Homo sapiens: one gene and its partners. The protein of the gene in region 1 interacts with the protein of each later gene in a biochemical or structural test. Each region holds a gene or a part of one and is shown in the gene's direction. Other genes may lie near its edges.

Evidence for each region.
Region 2: the proteins of ERG (region 1) and DKC1 form a complex in vitro, tested with the Homo sapiens proteins (one large-scale study listed by BioGRID).
Region 3: the proteins of ERG (region 1) and TOP1 form a complex in vitro, tested with the Homo sapiens proteins (one large-scale study listed by BioGRID).
Region 4: the proteins of ERG (region 1) and EEF1A2 form a complex in vitro, tested with the Homo sapiens proteins (one large-scale study listed by BioGRID).

What each region holds. Positions count from the first base shown.
Region 1 is NC_000021.9:38,379,536-38,383,477, reverse strand, and holds the end of ERG (transcriptional regulator ERG), read left to right. Parts: coding exon 1-75; 3' UTR 76-3,442; downstream 3,443-3,942. UniProt on the Homo sapiens protein: Transcriptional regulator. May participate in transcriptional regulation through the recruitment of SETDB1 histone methyltransferase and subsequent modification of local chromatin structure.
Region 2 is NC_000023.11:154,772,864-154,775,526, forward strand, and holds part of DKC1 (H/ACA ribonucleoprotein complex subunit DKC1), read left to right. Parts: intron 1-267; coding exon 268-386; intron 387-1,738; coding exon 1,739-1,842; coding exon of another isoform or gene 1,843-1,846; exon of another isoform or gene 1,847-2,331; coding exon 2,332-2,410; intron 2,411-2,663.
Region 3 is NC_000020.11:41,035,322-41,038,821, forward strand, and holds part of TOP1 (DNA topoisomerase 1), read left to right. Parts: intron 1-3,500. UniProt on the Homo sapiens protein: Releases the supercoiling and torsional tension of DNA introduced during the DNA replication and transcription by transiently cleaving and rejoining one strand of the DNA duplex.
Region 4 is NC_000020.11:63,489,084-63,492,583, reverse strand, and holds part of EEF1A2 (elongation factor 1-alpha 2), read left to right. Parts: intron 1-1,848; coding exon 1,849-2,105; intron 2,106-3,431; coding exon 3,432-3,500. UniProt on the Homo sapiens protein: Translation elongation factor that catalyzes the GTP-dependent binding of aminoacyl-tRNA (aa-tRNA) to the A-site of ribosomes during the elongation phase of protein synthesis.

The sequences.
Region 1 (3,942 bases):
CCAACTGGGGGTATATACCCCAACACTAGGCTCCCCACCAGCCATATGCCTTCTCATCTGGGCACTTACTACTAAAGACCTGGCGGAGGCTTTTCCCATCAGCGTGCATTCACCAGCCCATCGCCACAAACTCTATCGGAGAACATGAATCAAAAGTGCCTCAAGAGGAATGAAAAAAGCTTTACTGGGGCTGGGGAAGGAAGCCGGGGAAGAGATCCAAAGACTCTTGGGAGGGAGTTACTGAAGTCTTACTACAGAAATGAGGAGGATGCTAAAAATGTCACGAATATGGACATATCATCTGTGGACTGACCTTGTAAAAGACAGTGTATGTAGAAGCATGAAGTCTTAAGGACAAAGTGCCAAAGAAAGTGGTCTTAAGAAATGTATAAACTTTAGAGTAGAGTTTGGAATCCCACTAATGCAAACTGGGATGAAACTAAAGCAATAGAAACAACACAGTTTTGACCTAACATACCGTTTATAATGCCATTTTAAGGAAAACTACCTGTATTTAAAAATAGAAACATATCAAAAACAAGAGAAAAGACACGAGAGAGACTGTGGCCCATCAACAGACGTTGATATGCAACTGCATGGCATGTGCTGTTTTGGTTGAAATCAAATACATTCCGTTTGATGGACAGCTGTCAGCTTTCTCAAACTGTGAAGATGACCCAAAGTTTCCAACTCCTTTACAGTATTACCGGGACTATGAACTAAAAGGTGGGACTGAGGATGTGTATAGAGTGAGCGTGTGATTGTAGACAGAGGGGTGAAGAAGGAGGAGGAAGAGGCAGAGAAGGAGGAGACCAGGGCTGGGAAAGAAACTTCTCAAGCAATGAAGACTGGACTCAGGACATTTGGGGACTGTGTACAATGAGTTATGGAGACTCGAGGGTTCATGCAGTCAGTGTTATACCAAACCCAGTGTTAGGAGAAAGGACACAGCGTAATGGAGAAAGGGGAAGTAGTAGAATTCAGAAACAAAAATGCGCATCTCTTTCTTTGTTTGTCAAATGAAAATTTTAACTGGAATTGTCTGATATTTAAGAGAAACATTCAGGACCTCATCATTATGTGGGGGCTTTGTTCTCCACAGGGTCAGGTAAGAGATGGCCTTCTTGGCTGCCACAATCAGAAATCACGCAGGCATTTTGGGTAGGCGGCCTCCAGTTTTCCTTTGAGTCGCGAACGCTGTGCGTTTGTCAGAATGAAGTATACAAGTCAATGTTTTTCCCCCTTTTTATATAATAATTATATAACTTATGCATTTATACACTACGAGTTGATCTCGGCCAGCCAAAGACACACGACAAAAGAGACAATCGATATAATGTGGCCTTGAATTTTAACTCTGTATGCTTAATGTTTACAATATGAAGTTATTAGTTCTTAGAATGCAGAATGTATGTAATAAAATAAGCTTGGCCTAGCATGGCAAATCAGATTTATACAGGAGTCTGCATTTGCACTTTTTTTAGTGACTAAAGTTGCTTAATGAAAACATGTGCTGAATGTTGTGGATTTTGTGTTATAATTTACTTTGTCCAGGAACTTGTGCAAGGGAGAGCCAAGGAAATAGGATGTTTGGCACCCAAATGGCGTCAGCCTCTCCAGGTCCTTCTTGCCTCCCCTCCTGTCTTTTATTTCTAGCCCCTTTTGGAACAGAAGGACCCCGGGTTTCACATTGGAGCCTCCATATTTATGCCTGGAATGGAAAGAGGCCTATGAAGCTGGGGTTGTCATTGAGAAATTCTAGTTCAGCACCTGGTCACAAATCACCCTTAATTCCTGCTATGATTAAAATACATTTGTTGAACAGTGAACAAGCTACCACTCGTAAGGCAAACTGTATTATTACTGGCAAATAAAGCGTCATGGATAGCTGCAATTTCTCACTTTACAGAAACAAGGGATAACGTCTAGATTTGCTGCGGGGTTTCTCTTTCAGGAGCTCTCACTAGGTAGACAGCTTTAGTCCTGCTACATCAGAGTTACCTGGGCACTGTGGCTTGGGATTCACTAGCCCTGAGCCTGATGTTGCTGGCTATCCCTTGAAGACAATGTTTATTTCCATAATCTAGAGTCAGTTTCCCTGGGCATCTTTTCTTTGAATCACAAATGCTGCCAACCTTGGTCCAGGTGAAGGCAACTCAAAAGGTGAAAATACAAGGTGACCGTGCGAAGGCGCTAGCCGAAACATCTTAGCTGAATAGGTTTCTGAACTGGCCCTTTTCATAGCTGTTTCAGGGCCTGTTTTTTTCACGTTGCAGTCCTTTTGCTATGATTATGTGAAGTTGCCAAACCTCTGTGCTGTGGATGTTTTGGCAGTGGGCTTTGAAGTCGGCAGGACACGATTACCAATGCTCCTGACACCCCGTGTCATTTGGATTAGACGGAGCCCAACCATCCATCATTTTGCAGCAGCCTGGGAAGGCCCACAAAGTGCCCGTATCTCCTTAGGGAAAATAAATAAATACAATCATGAAAGCTGGCAGTTAGGCTGACCCAAACTGTGCTAATGGAAAAGATCAGTCATTTTTATTTTGGAATGCAAAGTCAAGACACACCTACATTCTTCATAGAAATACACATTTACTTGGATAATCACTCAGTTCTCTCTTCAAGACTGTCTCATGAGCAAGATCATAAAAACAAGACATGATTATCATATTCAATTTTAACAGATGTTTTCCATTAGATCCCTCAACCCTCCACCCCCAGTCCAGGTTATTAGCAAGTCTTATGAGCAACTGGGATAATTTTGGATAACATGATAATACTGAGTTCCTTCAAATACATAATTCTTAAATTGTTTCAAAATGGCATTAACTCTCTGTTACTGTTGTAATCTAATTCCAAAGCCCCCTCCAGGTCATATTCATAATTGCATGAACCTTTTCTCTCTGTTTGTCCCTGTCTCTTGGCTTGCCCTGATGTATACTCAGACTCCTGTACAATCTTACTCCTGCTGGCAAGAGATTTGTCTTCTTTTCTTGTCTTCAATTGGCTTTCGGGCCTTGTATGTGGTAAAATCACCAAATCACAGTCAAGACTGTGTTTTTGTTCCTAGTTTGATGCCCTTATGTCCCGGAGGGGTTCACAAAGTGCTTTGTCAGGACTGCTGCAGTTAGAAGGCTCACTGCTTCTCCTAAGCCTTCTGCACAGATGTGGCACCTGCAACCCAGGAGCAGGAGCCGGAGGAGCTGCCCTCTGACAGCAGGTGCAGCAGAGATGGCTACAGCTCAGGAGCTGGGAAGGTGATGGGGCACAGGGAAAGCACAGATGTTCTGCAGCGCCCCAAAGTGACCCATTGCCTGGAGAAAGAGAAGAAAATATTTTTTAAAAAGCTAGTTTATTTAGCTTCTCATTAATTCATTCAAATAAAGTCGTGAGGTGACTAATTAGAGAATAAAAATTACTTTGGACTACTCAAAAATACACCAAATTCTGTGCCTTCTTTTTATCTTTTAACCTTGGTTTAAAGAAATCTTGTTGACTCACACCTGTAATCCCAACACTTTGAAGGACAGAGGCGGGTGGATCGCTTGAGCCCGGGACCAGCCTGGGCAACATGAGAGTACCCAGTCTCTACAAAAAAATAAATAAATACAAAAAGCCGGGCATGGTGGTGCACAACTGCAGTCCCAGGAGTTCAAGGCTGCAGTGAGCTGTGATCACGCCACTAGCCTGGGTGACAGAGTGACACCCTGATTCAAAAATAAAATAAATTTTTGACAAAGCAGCCCAGATTAATGCTATATAGAAACAACTAGATAAACTTTTCTAACTTGTAATTTTAAACTCATTTTACTGAGTAAAACATCATTATCTTCTCACAAAAAAATGTTAAACTATTATTCTGTTGGAGAAAGTCATAATATTACCTGATTATAATTAGTGCTAGAATATGTGAATTACAAACTTCTGCAGGAAGCA
Region 2 (2,663 bases), on another chromosome or scaffold:
TCTTGAGCTGCAAGCCTGTTATGTGTATCGTTAGGTGCTTTGGTTAGGTGTTTTTTAACTTCAGAAGTTTAACGTCATTTCAAAGGCCTCCTTCTCATAATGGAGTATTTCCTCCATATGCACATCCTGAGCAAAGGTAACCCCAATTAAAGTAGTAGCTCAGAGTTTTAAAAGTTTTAAAGTGGCATACAACAGTAGAATTGGGGCTCATCAATTATCAATTCTTTCACCCTTCAAATAATTCTTTTCTTTATTCAATGCCTGTAGCTATTGCATTAATGACCACAGCGGTCATCTCTACCTGCGACCATGGTATAGTAGCCAAGATCAAGAGAGTGATCATGGAGAGAGACACTTACCCTCGGAAGTGGGGTTTAGGTCCAAAGGTAAGTGGTACTGGGTTGCGTGCCCTGCCAGGTTCTTTTTTTTTTTTTTTTTTTTTTAAATTTATTTTTTTATTGATAATTCTTGGGTGTTTCTCACAGAGGGGGATTTGGCAGGGTCATGGGACAATAGTGGAGGGAAGGTCAGCAGATAAACAAGTGAACAAAGGTCTCTGGTTTTCCTAGGCAGAGGACCCTGCGGCCTTCCGCAGTGTCTGTGTCCCTGATTACTTGAGATTAGGGAGTGGTGATGACTCTTAAGGAGCATGCTGCCTTCAAGCATCTGTTTAACAAAGCACATCTTGCACCGCCCTTAATCCATTTAACCCTGAGTGGACACAGCACATGTTTCAGAGAGCACAGGGTTGGGGGTAAGGTCACAGATCAACAGGATCCCAAGGCAGAAGAGTTTTTCTTAGTGCAGAACAAAATGAAAAGTCTCCCATGTCTACTTCTCTCCACACAGACACGGCAACCATCCGATTTCTCAATCTTTTCCCCACCTTTCCCGCCTTTCTATTCCACAAAACCGCCATTGCCATCCTGGCCCGTTCTCAATGAGCTGTTGGGCACACCTCCCAGACGGGGTGGCGGCCGGGCAGAGGGGCTCCTCACTTCCCAGTAGGGGCGGCCGGGCAGAGGCGCCCCTCACCTCCCGGACGGGGCGGCTGGCCGGGCGGGGGGGCTGACCCCCCCCCACCTCCCTCCCGGATGGGGCGGCTCCTGCCAGGTTCTTTTGTTTGGCATTGTTGAATACTTGGGCAGCTCTTGGTGTGTTTCACCACCACAGCCTTGTATTGTGCTGGGCTCTGGGTTGTCGATGAGTGGAAACAGGCCCTGTCTTGGGCCTTAGAGATTTCAGTCTAATGAGGGGAAACAGTTGGGCATTACTCACGTAATCACACAGTGGAATGGCGAATTTCATGCACGTTAGTGGCTACCAAGGAGTGCAGAGAGGTGTCTGTCACCTGGAGTGTCCACAGTGGTCAAGGAGTCTGGTCAAGGGATTGTCTGTTAAGCCACACCGGTGTGAAGAGTGGGTTAGGTGTTGGTGAAGTGAAGAGGGGAGGGGAGAGTTCAGGGCATTGGGAGCAAGCAGCATGTGCAAAGGCAAAAAAGTAGAGTGGCTGCGGTGGGGACGTTATGTCTGCAGAGGCTCTCACTAATAAGCTTTGTGATCTTCAACAAGTCCTGTGTGTGTTGGAGTTAGTGGGCAAATTCTGAATGCTCTGGAGAGGAGTTTGAGGCCCTGCTGAGAATACACCAGGGAGGAACCTTGTTCTATTCTTTGTAGTCACCATGCCCGCTTCCAGCATTGACACCATTCTAATGTTGACACCTTGATGTTCCACCAGGCAAGTCAGAAGAAGCTGATGATCAAGCAGGGCCTTCTGGACAAGCATGGGAAGCCCACAGACAGCACACCTGCCACCTGGAAGCAGGAGTATGTTGACTACAGGTGAGGGCAGGATGTTTCAGAGCCGGGGTGGGTAGAGACGGCACACTTGCTGCCTTGATGCAGGAGTATGTCAACAACAGGTGAGGATGGGAAGGTAGAGCCCACTTGCCATCTGGACGCAGGAGTACATGGACAACAGGTGAGGAACAGGTGAGCATGGAGGTTGTAGAGCCCAGGGGAGGGGGAGTCACTTGGTTTGGGGCAAACTTGCTAAATGCAGGACCACAGGAACCAGCTCTTCAGCTCCCGTGAGATTTTGGCTGCCCAGGCCAGTTAGGGGTGTGGGCCTGCACGGCAGACAGTTATCCCTTTCTAGTCTGGCTCGTGGGACTCTAGAGGGAGTCAGTCTGCAACAGTAAGTGGTGAGTTCTTCTGTCCAGCGTCAGTATTTTGATGGTGGCTTTAGACTTGCCAGATAACACTACATAACATCAGTACTGCCCTGGAAAGCCATTCAGTGAATTTGACCTATTGCTACCTCTTTTTCAGTGAGTCTGCCAAAAAAGAGGTGGTTGCTGAAGTGGTAAAAGCCCCGCAGGTAGTTGCCGAAGCAGCAAAAACTGCGAAGGTGAGTGGCATGCTGTCCTCAGTTTGGAATGTGCTTAGGGAGATAATCCTAAGAGGCACTGGCATTCGTCTTACTTTGTGACTGTCCGCAGTCCAGCCATATACGCTAGCATCAGAGGTGCAGCGCATACACAGGTAATGCTGCCTCATACCCTGGGGTGCTTGTTTGGGCTCTGCAGGCTCCTCTGATTTGTATTCTCTGTCCTATCTGCTGGGAGGAGGAATGTGGGCTCAGGAATCAGATGGGCCTCGAC
Region 3 (3,500 bases), on another chromosome or scaffold:
CAGATTTGGGGTGGGGAGGCATCTCTACCAGGCAATTAATTCCCCTCTGAGCCTTTGAAATTAACATTTTTGTTTCTGTGGATTCAAGGAGCCTAAAGAACACAGTTCATTAGCATTCCTAAGAAACACCTAGGTAAGCTCCAACAAAAGATGTTAAAGCAATCAGTATTTTTAGGGACTTCAGATCTCCTGTATTTGTTGTTGTAAATGATGATGTTGGGAAAAGAATTTAACAGATCCCTGGGTATTCTGACGTTTTCCTATATTTTAAGAACGAAACCGACCCAGCCAGCTTGTGGTCCCATTATTCTTTATATTGTTTTTCTTAGCACACGCTAGCAAAGATAGATGCCTAGGACTTTTCTTGGCTATTGGAGTTTATAGAAAAAAAGTTCTTTGTTGAAGGTTAGTCCTCCACCAGAATAATACACCCTTTTTCCCCTTAGTAGAAGTCCAAATGTTAATCTTGCTATCATATATGTATGAATGCCCAGATTTATAAAGCTTTGTAGGTATATTACTGATTGTGCAGGAGACTAATCTAGGAGGCTTCAGGATCATTGTCATTTGTGGATCTCATTGGCTAAGACCTTTTACTTAACCTGACTCCAGTAAGGTAGCCCCTTTGTTTCCTTGTAGTTGACTATGTGAGCTCTTGCCAAGCAGCAGAAGTGGGATGAAGGGAACTAATTTTGAAAACTTATTAGGCACCACATTTTTATGTGCATTAAATCTGAATTGAATAAAGATAATATAGATTGCATAGGCTTATGGGGAGAACCAGAGACCAGGAAAGGAAACGTTTTTTTCTTTTTACCCTTTATGCCTTTTCATGTCCCCTTTTTGATAACATGCTGCCTTGGTCCAGATTCTGGAAACCCCACTCAGGCTGTAATTGGTAAGCTTCTAGTACAGATGTCAGAACCTGCCCTTGATTATCTGCTGTTAGAGATAGCTTGGACCCTTTGTATGTGGAATGTTAGGTCTAGGGGAAGAGTGGGGGTGTGAGGAGACAGCTGTGGTAAAATAGAAAATTGGTGTAGGATTCCGAAAAATCGAGATAAGTCCCTGTTCTTCCTATGAAACATGATCTGACCACTGAACCTTGTTTTCTTATCCATAAGCAAGGATAATATTTATGTTTCACAAACTGTTGAGAATTAGATAAGTATATGAAGGTGCCTCTCTGTCCTCATTGTAAAATGTAAACTTTGATGAGACAGCCTCTATTCTCAACTGGATCTTTATTTTGAATGTTAGGTTTGAAATAGTGATTGATGTTGGGGAGTCTGTCTTTCATTGGTATTCCCTGTTAAAGTTTTAAATCTTCTTGACATTTACACAGTGAATTGTAACATGTAACTAGTGTTGTTGAGTCTTTACCTAATTGAATCAGCAGAGCCTACACTGATGTCTTCCAGTTACAAAGCGGTCACTGTAAAGTAAAAGGTGTCTTCATATCTAGGTTTGGGCTGAGAAGGATCCAATTGTATATCTAGTTCCTACTTTTCTTTTTTTTTTTTTTTTGAGATGGAGTCTCACTCTGTTACCCAGGCTGGAGTGCAGTGGCGCAATCTCGGCTCACTGCAAGCTCCGCCTCCCAGGTTCACGCCATTCTCCTGCCTTAGCCTCCTAAGTTGCTGGGACTACAGGCGCCCGCCACCACGCCTGGCTAATTTTTTGTATTTTTAGTAGATACAGGGTTTCACCGTGTTAGCCAGGATGGTCTCGATCTCCTGACCTCGTGATCCACCAGCCTCGGCCTCCCAAAGTGCTGGGATTACATGCATGAGCCACCGCGCCAAGCCTAATTCCTACTTTTCTAAGAATGTTTACAGCAAAGTGGTCATTGCCAAAGGAACTTGTAGCAGTACAGAAGATGGGCTCAGAAATGAAAGAAGTCTATTGATGTGACTAATTTCTCAACCATTTAATAGAATTATGGATTTTCTATTAAAAATAACTTGACCCTTTTCGATGCATTTAATAAAATGCCAAGTTCATTATTTGTTAATTTTTTAAAACCACAAAATTCAATATGTCTTGTGTCAGCATATTTTTTCAAAGGCCACTATTTTACTTCTCCCCCAAAACGTTTTTAAATTAAACAGAGAACTCTCAAAGCACCTGAGAATTACTTCAGTTTTTCATTTATTCAAATAGTTGCTTAAAGTGACCAACTTGGTTTTCTTTGAAATAGTAATTCTTGGGAATAAGAATACCTTAAATAATATAATAAAGCTTATGTGTGAGAATTTAGTACCAAATGCCGTGTTAACAGTTATGCGTGAGTATAGGCATTTGGGAGATTCCATGAAAAAATTTGATAAAGTCAGTAGAAATTTCAGTAATGGCTCATAAGTCTAGCTAATGCTGAATATTGAATTGCCTTGAATTTGTTTTTTTGGAAGTGTTACTTAAAGGAAATAAACAAAAGTCATTTAAGGATGTGTTCACTAGTGTTCATTAGGTTTAAGCCAAATGGATCTTAGTAGAGATCTTACGCCATTCAGCAAAAGGATTATCACAGAAGCATCACAACAGGCGCAGACTTAAATTCAATTAAAAGTAGGCAGGAGGACATAATTTTGTTGTATAGAAATTATGGAATAGGGCCTAATTTTAAAGAGTCTTCAAAGATAAACATATCAGGAAAAATATAGCTCATAAAATATGGGGAAAAAAATCTGGGAAGATGAGTATTTGTTAATGCTCTGTAGCTCCATTGCCCTCAGTATACAAGGAATGTGCCCACAATAGGGTTGGATTTAAAAGTCTTCAAAGCTTTGGTCTCTTTTTCTTTCGTTTTCCTCTGATACAGAATGCGAATAGTCTCCCGGCCTCCAACCCCCTCTACATCCCCACCACCCCATAATAGAGACTTAAAGGGAATTTAAATTCGAGTTCTTGAGCTTCTGCTCAATGGCTAGGTCTTTGAACAAGTTAATATCAGAGCCTTAGTTCTTCACCTATAAAGTAGGTTTAATACTTACCTTACAACATTGAGGATTAAAGAGCATGAGAGGATTACTTTATGAAAGGTGAAGCTTAGAACAGAATTTTTAGTTCCTTGCCAATGCTAAAAAACAACAACAACAACACCTTTTTCAGAAATTGCTTTATTAGGCTTTTGTACAAAGGGAACATCTTTACTTTCTTTAAATTTGCACATATATCTATTGTGAAATTTTAACCAAGCTGGAGGGGTCACTAGGGAGCATTGAGTATGATACTATTGCTGTAAATCATAGAAAGGCTGGCTCAGGAGGGTACTGACTTGCTTTGACTTTGCGGCAACTTCAGTTGTCCAGTGACAAGGCTTGCTGCATACACACCACTTTGTTTGTTTCTCATACCTTAAATTGTGGATTAAAAATCTTTGGGGCAGGCCTGGAGGCTCATGCCTATAATCCCAGCACTTTGGGAGGCCGAGATGGGCAGATCACTTGAGCCCAGGAGTTCAAGATCAGCCTGGGCAACATGGGAAAAACCTGTCTCAA
Region 4 (3,500 bases), on another chromosome or scaffold:
ATCCATTGTCCCACCCATCCATCCTTCTCTCTATCCATCCATCCATCCTTCCATCCATCCATCCACCTCCCCACCCATCCATCCTTCTGTCCATCCATCCATCCATCCATCTCTCCATCCATCCATCCATCCATCCATTGTCTCAACCATCCATCCTTCTCTCTATCCATCCATCCATCCATCCATCCATCTACCCACCCATCCATCCTTCTCTCTATCCATCCATCTATTGACCCACCCATCCATCCTTCTATCTATCCATCCATCCATTCATCCACTCACCCACCTACCCACCCATCCATCCTTCTGTACATCCATCCATCCATCCATCCACCCACCTACCTATCCATCCATCCTTCCATCCATCCATTTATCCATCCATCCATCCATCCATCTATCCACCCACCTACCCACCCATACATCCATCCATCCACCTCCCCATCCATCCACTTCCCCATCCATCCATCCATCCATCCATCTCCCCATCCACCCATCCACCTCTCTATCCATCCATCTCCCCACCCAGCCATCCTTCCCTCCATCATCCATCCATCCATCTCATCCATCCGTTCATCTCCTCATCCATCCATCCATCCATCCATCCATCCATCCATCCATCCATCCACCTCCCCATCCGTCCGTCCATCCATCCATCCATCCATCTATCCCCCCATCCATCCATCCATCCATCCATCCATCCATCCATCTATCCATCCACCTCCCCATCCATCCATTCATCCACCCACCTTCCTACCCATCCATCCTTCTGTCCATCCACTCATCTACCTCCTCATCCATCCATCCATCCATCCATCCACCAATCCATCCATCCATCTCCCTACTCATCCATCTCCCCACCCATCCTTCTGTCCATCCACCTCCCCATCCATCTACCACCCCATTCATACATCCATCCATCCATCCACCCACCTCCCCATCCATCCGTCCATCCATCCATCCATCCCACCAAGAAGAGAAACCATAAACAAATCTGAGACCCTAGAGAAGGGCACTGATAGGAGACCCCCAGCCAGTGGGCTGCAGCCAAAGATGTTGCAGGCATCTCTGTGTGCACTGTGGGGGCATCATGCTCACCCCAGCACAGAGCACAGCCACTGGCCTCAGTGAAGTTGGCTGGAGGCTACAACAGGCCTCCCTCACAGCCCTGGGAGGTGAGGGTGGAGACCCAGTAGCCTGGGGGGGGACAAGACCCCCATGTGGCAGCTGCACAATTGGTTTAAGTAGATCCATGAGAAATGCCAGGGACGCTCATGTGCCGCTGTGCCTGTGCTGCATCTGGCTGAGAGGCCCCTTTAGTGATAGAGACCTGCAGCATCCAAGTGGGGCCCAGAGAGCCTGCAGGGAGCAGGGAGCAGGGCCTGCAGGGAGCAGGGAGCAGGGCCACCAGGCCCCAGGCAGAAGCAGTCAGTCGCCCCGCCCACACTCACAGGGAGGAGTCCTCAGACAAAGGAGGGGTCCCATAGTGCCTCCTTTGAGGGAAAGTGCTCTCCGGGGGCAAGGATGGGACCCCAGGTTCAGACAGCCCCTCTCTGCCCATCCTCCCGCTTCTCTGTCCCTGTGGCTTTTCCGTGGGTTCCTGGGAGCTCTGCTGCTCAGCCTCTTATTTCCCCAGCTGGGTGGGAGAGCCCCCACTTCCCTTGGAATCTCTGTGTCTGCCCTTGTCCCTGGCCTCCCTTCCCCTGCACTCCGCCCATGTGGCCCCAACCCCCAGGCCTGTCGGGGGGATCCAGTCCCAGGCTTTGTTGGTTTCCAGGCTCTGTCCCCGAATATCCTGCCCCAGCATCCCCTCGGGCCCCACCTTCCCCTCACACCCCCTCCCCTCTGCAGGCATTGGCACGGTGCCCGTGGGCCGGGTGGAGACCGGCATCCTGCGGCCGGGCATGGTGGTGACCTTTGCGCCAGTGAACATCACCACTGAGGTGAAGTCAGTGGAGATGCACCACGAGGCTCTGAGCGAAGCTCTGCCCGGCGACAACGTCGGCTTCAATGTGAAGAACGTGTCGGTGAAGGACATCCGGCGGGGCAACGTGTGTGGGGACAGCAAGTCTGACCCGCCGCAGGAGGCTGCTCAGTTCACCTCCCAGGTGGGGGGCTGCGCTGGGTCCAGGGGGCTGGCGCCTGCTGGACAGCAGCAGGACTGTCCTGGGTGAGGCTGCTGTCGGCAGGTGGCCTGGCGTGGGGAGAAAACCAGACCCTCAGGCTGGGCGCAGTGGTTCACGCCTGTAATCCCAGCACTTTGAGAGGCCGAGGCGGGCAGATCACGAGGTCAAGAGATCAAGTCCATCCTGGTCAACATGGTGAAACCCCGTCTCTACTAAAAATACAAAAATTAGCCAGGCGTGGTGGCACGTGCCTGTAGTCCCAGCTATCAGGAAGCTGAGGCAGGAGAATCGCTTGAACCTGGGAGGCGGAGGTTGCAGTGAGCCGAGATTGCGCCACTGCACTCCAGCCTGCGTGACAGAGCGAGACTTCGTCTCAAAAGAAAAAAAAAAAAAGAAAAGGGACCCGCATACCACCGAGGGGGCCACCGAGCACTCAACGAGGGGATCAATCAGTTCTGGGAGGGGTGCAGGCCCTGTGGCTCCCAGCCTGTGTGCAATCGCGGGTCTGTCTTCCACGCTGCACTGCTGGGATGCCCAGCCTTTGAGGTCCTACATTCGTCCTAGAAAAACGCTTTTGTTAACTTACTGTCTGAGACATCTCTGTCATACTTTTATTCTCTACAGTCTTCATTGCCCCTCTTTGCTGGCCTCTTCATATGATTTATTTATTTTTTTTTTGAGACGGAGTCTCGCTCTGTTGCCCAGGCTGGAGTGCAGTGGTGCGATCTCGGCTCACTGCAACCTCCGCCTCCCGGGTTCAAGTGATTCTCCTGCCTCAGCCTCCCAAGTAGGTAAGATTACAGGCATGTGCCACCACGCCTGGCTAATTTTTGTATTATTAGTAGATACGGGGTTTCACCATGTTGGCCAGGCCGGTCTCGAACTCCTGACCTCAAGTGATCCACGTGCGTCAGCCTCCCAAAGTACTGGGATGACAGGTGTGAGCCACCGTGCCTGGCCTCTTCATATGATTTTTAAAAGTGGCTTTATTGAGATACAACTGAAACACAGGAATTGAGGTCCAGTTTTGTCACCCCCCCGCCTTAGTTCCAGCTGGGGTTGGCCGTGTAAGTGCTGCCCCTGCCCCTTCGAAACAATGAATCTCAGTTGTTTATCTTTTGCTTAATGAGGATGTTGAGGTTCAGGTCTGGGGGCTGGGTCCTCAGAGCCTGAGCCCCCTCCAGTCAGCACTCCGGGCCCAGGAGCCCGTGCAGGGGCGCCGGTGACTGGGCCTCCCAGCCCCGCTCTGGCGCCCTCCCGGTGCCCACCGCCGATGTGCCTGATGGCCGCCTGTGGCTCCGCTCGCAGGTCATCATCCTGAACCACCCGGGGCAGATTAGCGCCGGCTACTCCCCGGTCATCGACTGCCACACAGCC